Homo sapiens: one gene and its partners. The protein of the gene in region 1 purifies or fractionates together with the protein of each later gene. This does not show direct contact. Each region holds a gene or a part of one and is shown in the gene's direction. Other genes may lie near its edges. The genes, in order: SLC38A4, CLPTM1L and SLC5A12.

Region 1 (3,653 bases):
ATAATTCTCAACTTCTTTAATCTAGACATCAGTAACCTCAGTCTTCATTCTCACTAAATAGCAAAACTTTCCCCATAAATTCTGATTTACCTCATAAAAAATTTCAGAACACTTTCAAGTATTTTGATGTCTTTGATTTACTTTGAAAATTACATGTAGCAGTTACTCCAGAAGCCTGACAATTGATCTTTGGCAGCCAGGTTCCTTCTAGAATGGTTTTCAGAAGCTTTTCAGGTAGTCTGGACTCCTGGCAGTAGTACTTTGCTGACTCTACTAGGTTCTTTTCCTCATCTAAAGTCATCTCATTATGAAATGCAAAAGCTTTCTATGTTAGGAGCCTGTTTGATCTTTATGTTAATTATATTCTTATTCAGTGGGCAAGCTTACTGACCTACGTGAAATAGACTGTTCCTCTTCTAGGGAAATGATTGTTTTTAAGACTGAAGGACTAGTGTTTAAGAAAAATGGAAATGAATCCTCATTAGCTCTCTAAGACAAATTTAAATCAGCTATAAGTTTATGTACTAAATATGTCTTCATGATGAGCAATATAGATATACTTTTTTATTATTATTTTCATTTTGAAAAGTGATTTTTTTTTGTAAGTTTAAAAAACAAAGCTTGGTGTTCTTTCTTTTTCCAGTCGGTCCCGGAGAAAAATGCAAACGGTGTCAAATATTTCCATCACGGGGATGCTTGTCATGTACCTGCTTGCCGCCCTCTTTGGTTACCTAACCTTCTATGGTAGGTCACTCTGAAAGTCATTCTCTATATGCAAATCCTTGTTAGGCTGGTCCTTGACCTGGGTAGGTATGATTTTTAAAAATTGCCTTCTATAAGCATGCTCTATAGATGACACATATTCAATTAATATACTATTTTAGTTTTGTCACTTGACCTGAGGAAATGGGGCCTGATTCAGCCTGGCTAACAAGTTACAAGAATTTGTGAATTAACACCTATTTTATAAAAAATATCCCTCAAACAAAATTATTTTCCTCTAGGGATAGATGATATTTCTCTGGCTAGACTCCATAGTCCAACTCAGGCTACAAGTGATGAGAATGAATCCACTTGCATGTGATAAAGCTCCTTTGATGGAATTATTACCTGCCACACAAATAGCAGGGAAACTGCCAGGTCCTCAAGTTTGAATTTGCCTCCTCTTTACCAGTCAAGTCAAATCTGGGAGCTTGGGACTTTAGGTAAAATTTCTGACATATCCCATTCTATTTTGTTATACTAAATGATTTCCTAAGAAAGAGGACATGACAGAATTTCCTTCAATCTAAGAATGCACCACCAAAAAAAAGTGACTATGGCCACATTAGATTATGCCTGCAACATTTCCTCTCTGGCATCTTAACAGTTCACAAAGGGAGTAGGATTGTACTCCTTCCATGAAGTGTGGCCACATAAACAGATTTCATGGAATCACATATTGACCTGGTAGCATATGTTTACATGAATCAGTGTATCAATATAAATATATTTTTGTATAAACCTCCTTTTAAAGTTTTTAACTTAATTTTTTTCTTACTGACTTGGTAAATTGAATTGCATGTATGACAAATTGTGGAGGAAAAGATTCAGGAGTAGGCCACCATTTGCTTAGGTTTTTTTTCTATTTGACTAATATTTGACTATTAACCAAACATGTGCTTTAGATTGGGCATTAACTTTTTGCCGGTTGTGAAATAATGAATGACGAGGTCAATACTACTGAAGGTATTTTCACTCCTTTTTGTCTGATCTTGAGGTGAAAATCCAACTACGCTTGATTCCATAGATATTTTCTTGTTATTTGTGCTTGGAGTCCTGAATGAAGGTGTTTTCAAGTAGGGCTGCATCTTCGTCTTAGAGTAGTACCCACTGGGAGACCATCTAAAAATTATACTAATTTATCCCTGCATGTTACTTATACTTATTTTAATGAGTTTCATAAGACAAGCAAAAACTTGAAAGAGCCCAAAAATATCTGTTTTAGTGTGGTGATGGAGTCATAGTTGTTGAGCTTGAAAAAATGGTAGCAATCATTCATCCTAGAGTTTACACACTGGGTTTGTAACCTGCATCAGGAGTGGCTGCGCAGGTAGGGACAGGGGAGGTGGTAGGCTGGGAGAGACAATATGTGGGGCTTGGGTCTCTCATCCCCTTCAACAAGAGCACCTTGGTCTCTGTCTGATTTGTAATTGCTTCTGTACAGCGGAGATAGATTTATCACAATGTAAATGAGCTTGAGAGGCTCTTTATTTTGTATTATACCTTCTGCAACGTTATCAGCTTCAGGACCTCTTTGTTCATTTGAATGAAGGTTGCATAGCTAATGAGCTCAGAGGCAAGACCAGAGGTGCCTGGATTCCCAGGCCTAGGTCTTTTCCTCTGTTCTGTGTTCTCTCTATAAAATGTTGCCATAAGTGACCTGTGCTGATTTGACAACACCAAGCGGTTTCATTCTCTTTTTCCTGTTGTAGGAGAAGTTGAAGATGAATTACTTCATGCCTACAGCAAAGTGTATACATTAGACATCCCTCTTCTCATGGTTCGCCTGGCAGTCCTTGTGGCAGTAACACTAACTGTGCCCATTGTCCTCTTCCCAGTAAGTACATAAGACTTTGATGAAAGAAACCTACTTGACCCCATAAATTAGTACATGTGTTCTACCTTCATTTTGATTTAATTATAGGGTGAGTTTGCAATTGCAATGCCTGAGGATATTATTTTCCTATAGCATTTTGAGTCACTTAAAATTGGCCATTTAATGTGTAGATAGAGCAAGTAGTTTCAGGTGGTATTTTTATAGTGTAGGAAAAAAATCATAAAACTTATTTTTAAACTCAAAGTTGAAAAGTGGAGCTGGAGCTTCTGTCTTGTGGATTAGTAAAACTGAGTAGGAGTTCATATAACTTTGGAACCTTGAAAGCCAAAACCATATTAACTTTCAAATCTTATTAAATTTCATCACAGTTTTGAAGGCATTTCATTTTTTTTCCAGTTTGTTGTGCTGCAATAATATACAAAAGTTGCCTTTTTTAACCTGATGCCTTGAAGGCTAATGAAAAGGGGATTCATGTTAAGTAAATTATATACCAGAAAAAAATTTTTCAAAAAACAGTTATGCTATCTATCACATATCTCTCTCACACATGGCCTCTGCCAGACTCACACCAGGTCACCCCTCCCTGGCATTTGTCATTGGTGTCAGTTTGTTCTGAGATCCCAGAGCAGAGCTGGTAGTGAAGATTTGGGCTGTGTGAGTTAAAACCACCACCTAAGGATAAACACAGGTCTTCACCCTCCTGCCAGCTCCTGTTTCATAAACACTGAATTTACTCATTCATTTGAGGGGGAAAAAAATAAGTGACACAGTAACCAGCACTGTCCTGGACATAATGTTCCATACAGGGCTTGCATATGAAGACTATTTCTATAATGACACTGTGGTCACTTTAAATGCAGCTTGTGTGCTGAAATATATTTTGGCACATTCCTTTTTCATGAGTGCATGAAATCAGATCCGTACTACTATGGTGGCTAATATTTTACTCTTAAATCATGTCTTGCCTCTAATATATCTGAAAGTATTTCAGATGACATACACATAGCTTTAGCCTAAAATCAGCTCCGTCTTGGGTACAAGACAGAAGACAACT
Region 2 (3,653 bases), on another chromosome or scaffold:
AGCTGGATGAAATGTGTCTGTAGAGGAGGAGCTGGATGGAATGTGTCTGTAGAGGAGGAGCTGGATGGAATGTGTCTGTAGAGGAGGAGCTGGATGGAATGTGTCTGTAGAGGAGGAGCTGGATGGAATGTGTCTGTAGAGGAGGAGCTGGATGGAATGTGTCTGTAGAGGAGGAGCTGGATGGAATGTGTCTGTAGAGGAGGAGCTGGATGGAATGTGTCCGTAGAGGAGGAGCTGGATGGAATGTGTCTGTAGAGGAGGAGCTGGATGGAATGTGTCTGTCGAGGAGGAGCTGGATGGAATGTGTCTGTAGAGGAGGAGCTGGATGGAATGTCCCTGTAGAGGAGGAGCTGGATGAAATGTGTCTGTAGAGGAGGAGCTGGATGGAATGTGTCTGTAGAGGAGGAGCTGGATGGAATGTGTCTGTAGAGGAGGAGCTGGGTGGAATGTCCCTGTAGAGGAGGAGCTGGGTGGAATGTCCCTGTAGAGGAGGAGCTGGATGAAATGTCCCTGTAGAGGAGGAGCAGGATGAAATGTGTCTGTAGAGGAGGAGCTGGATGAAATGTGTCTGTAGAGGAGGAGCTGGGTGGAATGTGTCTGTAGAGGAGGAGCTGGATGAAATGTGTCTGTAGAGGAGGAGCTGGATGGAATGTCCCTGTAGAGCAGGAGCTGGATGGAATGTCCCTGTAGAGGAGGAGCTGGATGGAATGTCCCTGTAGAGGAGGAGCTGGATGAAATGTCCCTGTAGAGGAGGAGCTGGATGGAATGTCCCTGTAGAGGAGGAGCTGGATGAAATATGTCTGTAGAGGAGGAGCTGGATGGAATGTGCCTGTAGAGGAGGAGCTGGATGGAATGTGCCTGTAGAGGAGGAGCTGGATGGAATGTGTCTGTAGAGGAGGAGCTGGATGGAATGTGTCTGTAGAGGAGGAGCTGGATGAAATGTCCCTGTAGAGGAGGAGCTGGATGGAATGTGTCTGTCGAGGAGGAGCTGGATGAAATGTGTCTGTAGAGGAGGAGCTGGATGGAATGTGTCTGTAGAGGAGGAGCTGGATGGAATGTGCCTGTAGAGGAGGAGCTGGATGAAATGTGTCTGTAGAGGAGGAGCTGGATGGAATGTGTCTGTCGAGGAGGAGCTGGGTGGAATGTCCCTGTCGAGGAGGAGCTGGGTGGAATGTCCCTGTAGAGGAGGAGCTGGGTGGAATGTCCCTGTAGAGGAGGAGCTGGATGAAATGTCCCTGTGGAGGAGGAGCTGGATGGAATGTGTCCGTAGAGGAGGAGCTGGATGAAATGTGTCCGTAGAGGAGGAGCTGGATGAAATGTGTCCGTAGAGGAGGAGCTGGATGAAATGTGTCTGTCGAGGAGGAGCTGGATGAAATGTGTCTGTCGAGGAGGAGCTGGATGAAATGTCCCTGTAGGGGAGGAGCTGGATGAAATGTCCCTGTAGAGGAGGAGCTGGATGGATTGTCCCTGTAGAGGAGGAGCTGGATGAAATGTCCCCGTAGAGGAGGAGCTGGATGGAATGTCCCCGTAGAGGAGGAGCTGGATGGAATGTCCCCGTAGAGGAGGAGCTGGATGAAATGTGTCTGTAGAGGAGGAGCTGGATGAAATGTGTCTGTAGAGGAGGAGCTGGATGAAATGTGTCTGTAGAGGAGGAGCTGGATGGAATGTGTCTAGAGGAGGAGCTGGATGAAATGTGTCGGTAGAGGAGGAGCTGGATGGAATGTCCCTGTAGAGGAGGAGCTGGATGAAATGTGTCTGTGGAGGAGGAGCTGGATGAAATGAAATGTGTCTGTCGAGGAGGAGCTGGATGAAATGTGTCTGTAGAGGAGGAGCTGGATGAAATGTGTCTGTAGAGGAGGAGCTGCATGGAATGTGTCTGTAGAGGAGGAGCTGGATGGAATGTCCCTGTAGAGGAGGAGCTGGATGAAATGACGCTGGAGCTCCACAGGCAGGGTCCCTCCATAGGTACGAGTCACAGTGCCGTGCCCGGCTCTGGCACCCGTCCTGAGCTCCGTGGGTGATGCCTTCCAAGCATTTAGCCATGAGGTGGCGGCTCTCAGAGCGGTCCCAAAACTGGCTCCAGGGCTGCCCGAGTGGCAGGCAGAAGTAGGTGGGGGCTTATTTGGGTGCAGGCAGAGTGGCGTAAAGAACTGCCCTCACATGCTGTTTTTGTTGTCCGCTGGGCGGTGGCTGTGCAGCCCACCTGACCAGGTACGCCTGCCGTGTGTGGGTTAGAGGCCCAGGTCCAGCCTCCAGCGCTCTGGCCTGAGCTGTGGGAGGGACAGGAAGAGGACAGTGGGCTGCGCGGGGCCATGGGCAGCAGGTCCTACCCGTTACTGTCTGGGTCGTTCATTCGTGGCTCCTGGCCTTCGAATATTAAAGGAACTATTTCCTGATTTCTCCCCTCAGCTGTGGAAAGTGAAGAAGGCATTGAAGATGACTATTTTTTGGAGAGGCCTGATGCCCGAATTTCAGGTAGGATTTAGTTGTAATGGCTGAACCCCAAGCCTCTCTGAAGAGTGTGATTTTGCCCCCTGTGCAAAGAGTAAGATGGCCATCTGCAGATGAGTCACTGCGGGCCTCTGTCAGGGGAGCCTCCGTGGTGGAGGCAGCACTGGTTTCTGATCGCAGCCACTCTCTTCGCCTGAGGATTCCCCGGTCATATACCTAGTTCTGACCGTCTTCAGTGCAGACGGCAGCACTTCTGGGCCTGAGCCGGCCTCTGGGAGGAAGGATGCTGGCTGGCCAGCACGTGTGCTTCGTTTTGGCACCTTGTCCAGAGGCGCTCCCGAGGCTGGTGCTGACTGGGGTCCGTACAGTCCTGGCAGTCCTGAAGTGAGTGAGCCCCTGCCCTGAGCTGGTGGCTGCCCCAGTGCCTGGGCGCCCATAAGGCCCCTAGGCAGATGAGGGCTGGGGCAGAGCTGGAGTTGAATCTCAGTGCCCACGGATGGACCTTGATTGAGGCGGGGCCCTCAGCAGTCACAGGCTGAGATTTTCCATGCTGTGGGCAGGGGGGTCAGGAAGCCCAGCACACGCAGCGCAGCCACTGTGTTCCACCTTGCCCCATGGCTCCCGGCCGGCTGGTTCGGAGCAGTGTTGGCTGTGCCTGTGTGCTCTGCAGTGTTCTCACTGAAGCGGTGGCACTGAAAACTGAGCCACCTGAGCAAGGAACAGCAGTGAGGCCGCGTTGCCCCCATCAGGCTTGTGGGACCCAGGGCCAGGGTGAGGCGGGAAGGATCCATGCGGATCCCCGTCCTCTGGGTCCTCTCCTCGCCTGGTAGGGACCTGAGCGCCCTCTGTAGTGAGGCCTGGGTCAGCTCTGCAGCCATATGTGACGCCCCTTAGTCACAGCTCAGCTGTGCTCAGATCCTCCCTGAGTCTATTAATATCACTGTGTTGAATTTCACAACAGTTTGGCACTTACAGCGAATCTGAGAGGAAAACCGAGGAGTACGATACTCAGGTAAGTCACTTGTGATTCAGGGCACGTGCATGCCAGGCAAATCCAACACCCTCAAAGACGGGTCTTTTACTGTCATTGCTCAGTGCGGAAGTCTCCTTGGAGTACGGGTCAGCCCGCCTTGAGCAGGGATCCCAAGAGTGAACACATAAAACCCAAATTTCTTACTGGGAAGGGCGGGGGCTCGCAGAGA
Region 3 (3,653 bases), on another chromosome or scaffold:
AAATACATCAGATACTATGGTGTAGAGAGACGATTGTGGACTTTGAAATCTGAAATATTTGGGTTTGGATTTTGGTTTTATAATTTATTCCCTCTGTATCTTTGGACAAGTTAGTAAGTTGTAACTTCTTGAATTCTCAGAGCCCTTGATGGAAAAATGAGGAAATATATATATATATATGAATATATATACATATATATATGAATATATATACATATATATATGAATATATATACATATATATATGAATATATATACATATATATATATGAATATATATACATATATATAAAGTAGCACTACACGTGACTTTAATAAATGTTCACTCTCACATTCTAATTGTATGTAAGAGCAAGTCTAGAAAATATAGGATTTGTGTTATTTGTGTATCCTCAAAAGTACTTCATTTTTAGTAGCCCTTTTCTGATTATCATCAATATCTCCCCATACTGGCTCATTCCCTCTGAGTCCAGGCTTCTCAAACTGGCCAGATAATGTGGCAAATTGCATTCATGAAAGTCTCTCTCGGTCCGGCATATCTTCTCCTCTCCATTGTCCTTGTCAATCTTGAGGCTAGTCTTGTCTTTACAAAGTCCAGAAAAGTGAAATTATCTTATTTGTATTTTTTATTTCCTCCATTTTTCTATCTCTTTTCCTTTCTAATACAACCCATTCTATCCAAGCATCACTAGATTTATTTTTTCTGAAGCACCTTTCTGAACTCATTACTACCACATGGAGATGACTTAAATGATTCATGTGCTTATGGAATAAAACACAACCTTTTTATCCTGGAGCTAAATACCTGCCAAACTTAAAACTTTCCTGTGGTTTTAATGTTATTAACTATTGTTTTCCTTCTACTCTGAATTCTGTTTCTTCTCGTCTACCTATGCTTATCCCACTCTTTCCTACATTTGGGTCCTTAAGCTATTCCCTTTACATGAATATATTTTAGTGTTCATTTCCACTCTCCTAAAATCTGTTTATCTTTCAAGAGCCATACTAGTGTCTCCTATTCCTCCATAAAGTTCATTTTGACTCAGGTTCCAAATGGGCACTCCATTATTTTGCTTCCATTTGTCTTTGAGTTTCATTTTCTTTCCATAAATTTTATATCGAAGAATTTCAACCTATTCATGGTTCCCCATAAACCATGTTGATTCTTCCCTCCTGCCTATACTTACTGTATTCTCTTCTTAGAATGCTAATTCCTGGCCCTGACTACCCTCTTTGCTTGATTAACTACTAATTATTCTTTCAAAATGAGCTGAGGTATCATCTCACGCATTGGTCTGAATTTGATACTACTCTGAAGGCTGCCATAGTATTTTATACCTTTTCTACTGAGGCAAAACCAACCCATTTTATGATTGTCTATTAGCTCCTGTATGTAGACTTTGTGACTTTCTCATCTTTATATCACTAATGCTTGTCACAATTACTAGCACTAAATCTGGGCTTAATAAAAGTCTGAAGAATAAATAATACAAATGAAATTGTATTATTTGTATTAAGACACAATCCTCATTGTAATACTTATGATTCAGTATCAACATCGTTATATTTGTAATTCAGGAATGAATTGAATTGAGTGGAATACAAAGCACATCTTCTCTAAATATAATTTTTTAAATGACAAAAAGTTATGATTTAGGCTTTTGAGATGCCAGGCCCTAAAATGAATCCTGAGCAGTCCTCTACATCACTGTGGGTCTTTAGGATGCATGGAATTGGTGACATGTGCTGTTCTCCACAGACCTGGAATAGCTGATACCTGGTACTCGATCTCCTACCTTTACTACAGTGCAGTGGGCTGCTTAGGATGCATTGTTGCTGGAGTAATCATCAGCCTCATAACAGGTTGGTTATAATTCCTCCCTTTGGGACTAAAGAAGATATGGGCTCATGCATGCATTGGTGGACTGGCTGTCTGTCTTATTGCTTTGAATTCACGTTTCCCACAAAAACCCTTCTTCCCACAGAGATGTCTACTCTCTCAACGCTGACATACAAAGGCACCCTTCATTATTATATACCTGACTATTAATATATAAAACATATATTCACGGGAGGCTGAGGCAGGAGAATCGCTTGAACCCAGAAGGTGGAGGTTGCAGTGAGCTGAGATGGTGCCATTGCACTCCAGCTTGGGCAACAGAGCAAGGCTCCGTCTCAAAAAACCAAAAAAAACCCCAACCAAACAAAAAAACATATATTCAAACATTTCCCATATATTATTTAAAAAAAGATGCTTTGACACATGCCCCCCAGAGGCCTGAGTATGAAAAACCCTCTGTAATATAACAATCAGTAAATAAGGTTAAATATTCAGAGTGGTTCTTTTCCCTTCATCCCAGTAAGAGACAAGATTTTTGTCATCACCATCTTACTATCTCATGAAGTCAGCCTTTGCTAACTTACTAGAAAAGCAAAACACTGTTGTTTTTGCCTATGTTGTCCTTTGGAGGCTGCTTCTCTAGGGTCGTGGAGTTCTCTGCAGTGAGCAGCTTCACTGTAAGCCATTTTTAGCAAAGTGTCTACCATCCATACTTGCCCTTTTGATGTATTAATGTCCTTTTTGTTTCAAAGCCCATGAGGGGTTGGTAGTGGTGAGAGTGTGGGAGATAATGGGGTGGAATAAGTTCACTGTACTCTTGTCCCTCCACCTCCTTGGAGTATGTATTTTAGCTAAAAAATTTTAAGGTATTCTATTTTTCCATGACTATTATATACCAATGAACAATGGCCAACATTCTGACTCAACACAAAACCTGAATGGCAACATTTCTGGTGACTGTGTACTAGAGATGTTATATTGAAGCTCCAATGCCCTATTGTTCTGTGCATGATGTCACTAGCCATTCACTGAAATTTAAGAAGATCTTGGCTATGATAAAGAATAGACTATAAATCTTGTAACCCCAGTCTTTCACATAATAACAACTCTCTCAATGTCTTTATGTAAATGGTTTCAGGCAAAAGATTGTTTATTCATTTTGTTTAGATTTTGCCTTAGTACCCTGACATCTGTAACTCCTTCCTTGATGCTAGTGGGATATACCTAGACATTTCAGTTTAGTGATCGGTCACCACTAAGAAGACAACCAAGATTTCAGCTGCCTGAACATTTCCTTCTAAATCAGGAAATGTGTACACATGAAATCCAGTAGTTTGCCAGTCCATATTTTCCATGTGTGCACCAGAATTAGCATGCTCTTATGTTGATACAGCAGCACTTATATTAAATTTGATTGAAAATTCTTACACATTTTCAGCATGAATAACTCTTCCAGTATTAATCCCTTTGTTTTCTTTTTCTCCAAATAAGCCAGGTCTTAGTCAAATGCCCTTCAGGCCAAAAGCGAACACTCTAACAAAGTCTAATTATGCCTTCAAACATTTGGAAAAATTTTTGAACATGACCACCAGATGTTCTTGCCTCCTGGTCCCTGTCTTCCAAATGAGGCCTTAGGGCTAGCCTGATAACCTCAGGTCTGCTCACTAAGAGGCTTTAACAAATCTTCTGTAATACCCACTGAATCTTTTAAAAAGTCTTACAATGTTTAAATGTAGAATAGGGTCAGTAAGGAAGGACAGAGGCCTTTTGTGGGCCTGTTCTCCTTGTGTCATATTTTATCTTGGTCTTGTTT

What was found.
Region 2: the proteins of SLC38A4 (region 1) and CLPTM1L purify together in Homo sapiens (affinity purification with mass spectrometry; one large-scale study listed by BioGRID and IntAct). This does not show direct contact.
Region 3: the proteins of SLC38A4 (region 1) and SLC5A12 purify together in Homo sapiens (affinity purification with mass spectrometry; one large-scale study listed by BioGRID and IntAct). This does not show direct contact.

Annotation. Positions count from the first base shown.
Region 1 is NC_000012.12:46,773,995-46,777,647, reverse strand, and holds part of SLC38A4 (sodium-coupled neutral amino acid transporter 4), read left to right. Parts: intron 1-643; coding exon 644-744; intron 745-2,474; coding exon 2,475-2,599; intron 2,600-3,653. UniProt on the Homo sapiens protein: Symporter that cotransports neutral amino acids and sodium ions from the extraccellular to the intracellular side of the cell membrane. The transport is electrogenic, pH dependent and partially tolerates substitution of Na(+) by Li(+).
Region 2 is NC_000005.10:1,324,573-1,328,225, reverse strand, and holds part of CLPTM1L (lipid scramblase CLPTM1L), read left to right. Parts: intron 1-2,409; coding exon 2,410-2,475; intron 2,476-3,412; coding exon 3,413-3,463; intron 3,464-3,653. UniProt on the Homo sapiens protein: Scramblase that mediates the translocation of glucosaminylphosphatidylinositol (alpha-D-GlcN-(1-6)-(1,2-diacyl-sn-glycero-3-phospho)-1D-myo-inositol, GlcN-PI) across the endoplasmic reticulum (ER) membrane, from the cytosolic leaflet to the luminal leaflet of the ER membrane, where it participates in the biosynthesis of glycosylphosphatidylinositol (GPI).
Region 3 is NC_000011.10:26,676,922-26,680,574, reverse strand, and holds part of SLC5A12 (sodium-coupled monocarboxylate transporter 2), read left to right. Parts: intron 1-1,759; coding exon 1,760-1,863; intron 1,864-3,653. UniProt on the Homo sapiens protein: Acts as an electroneutral and low-affinity sodium (Na(+))-dependent sodium-coupled solute transporter.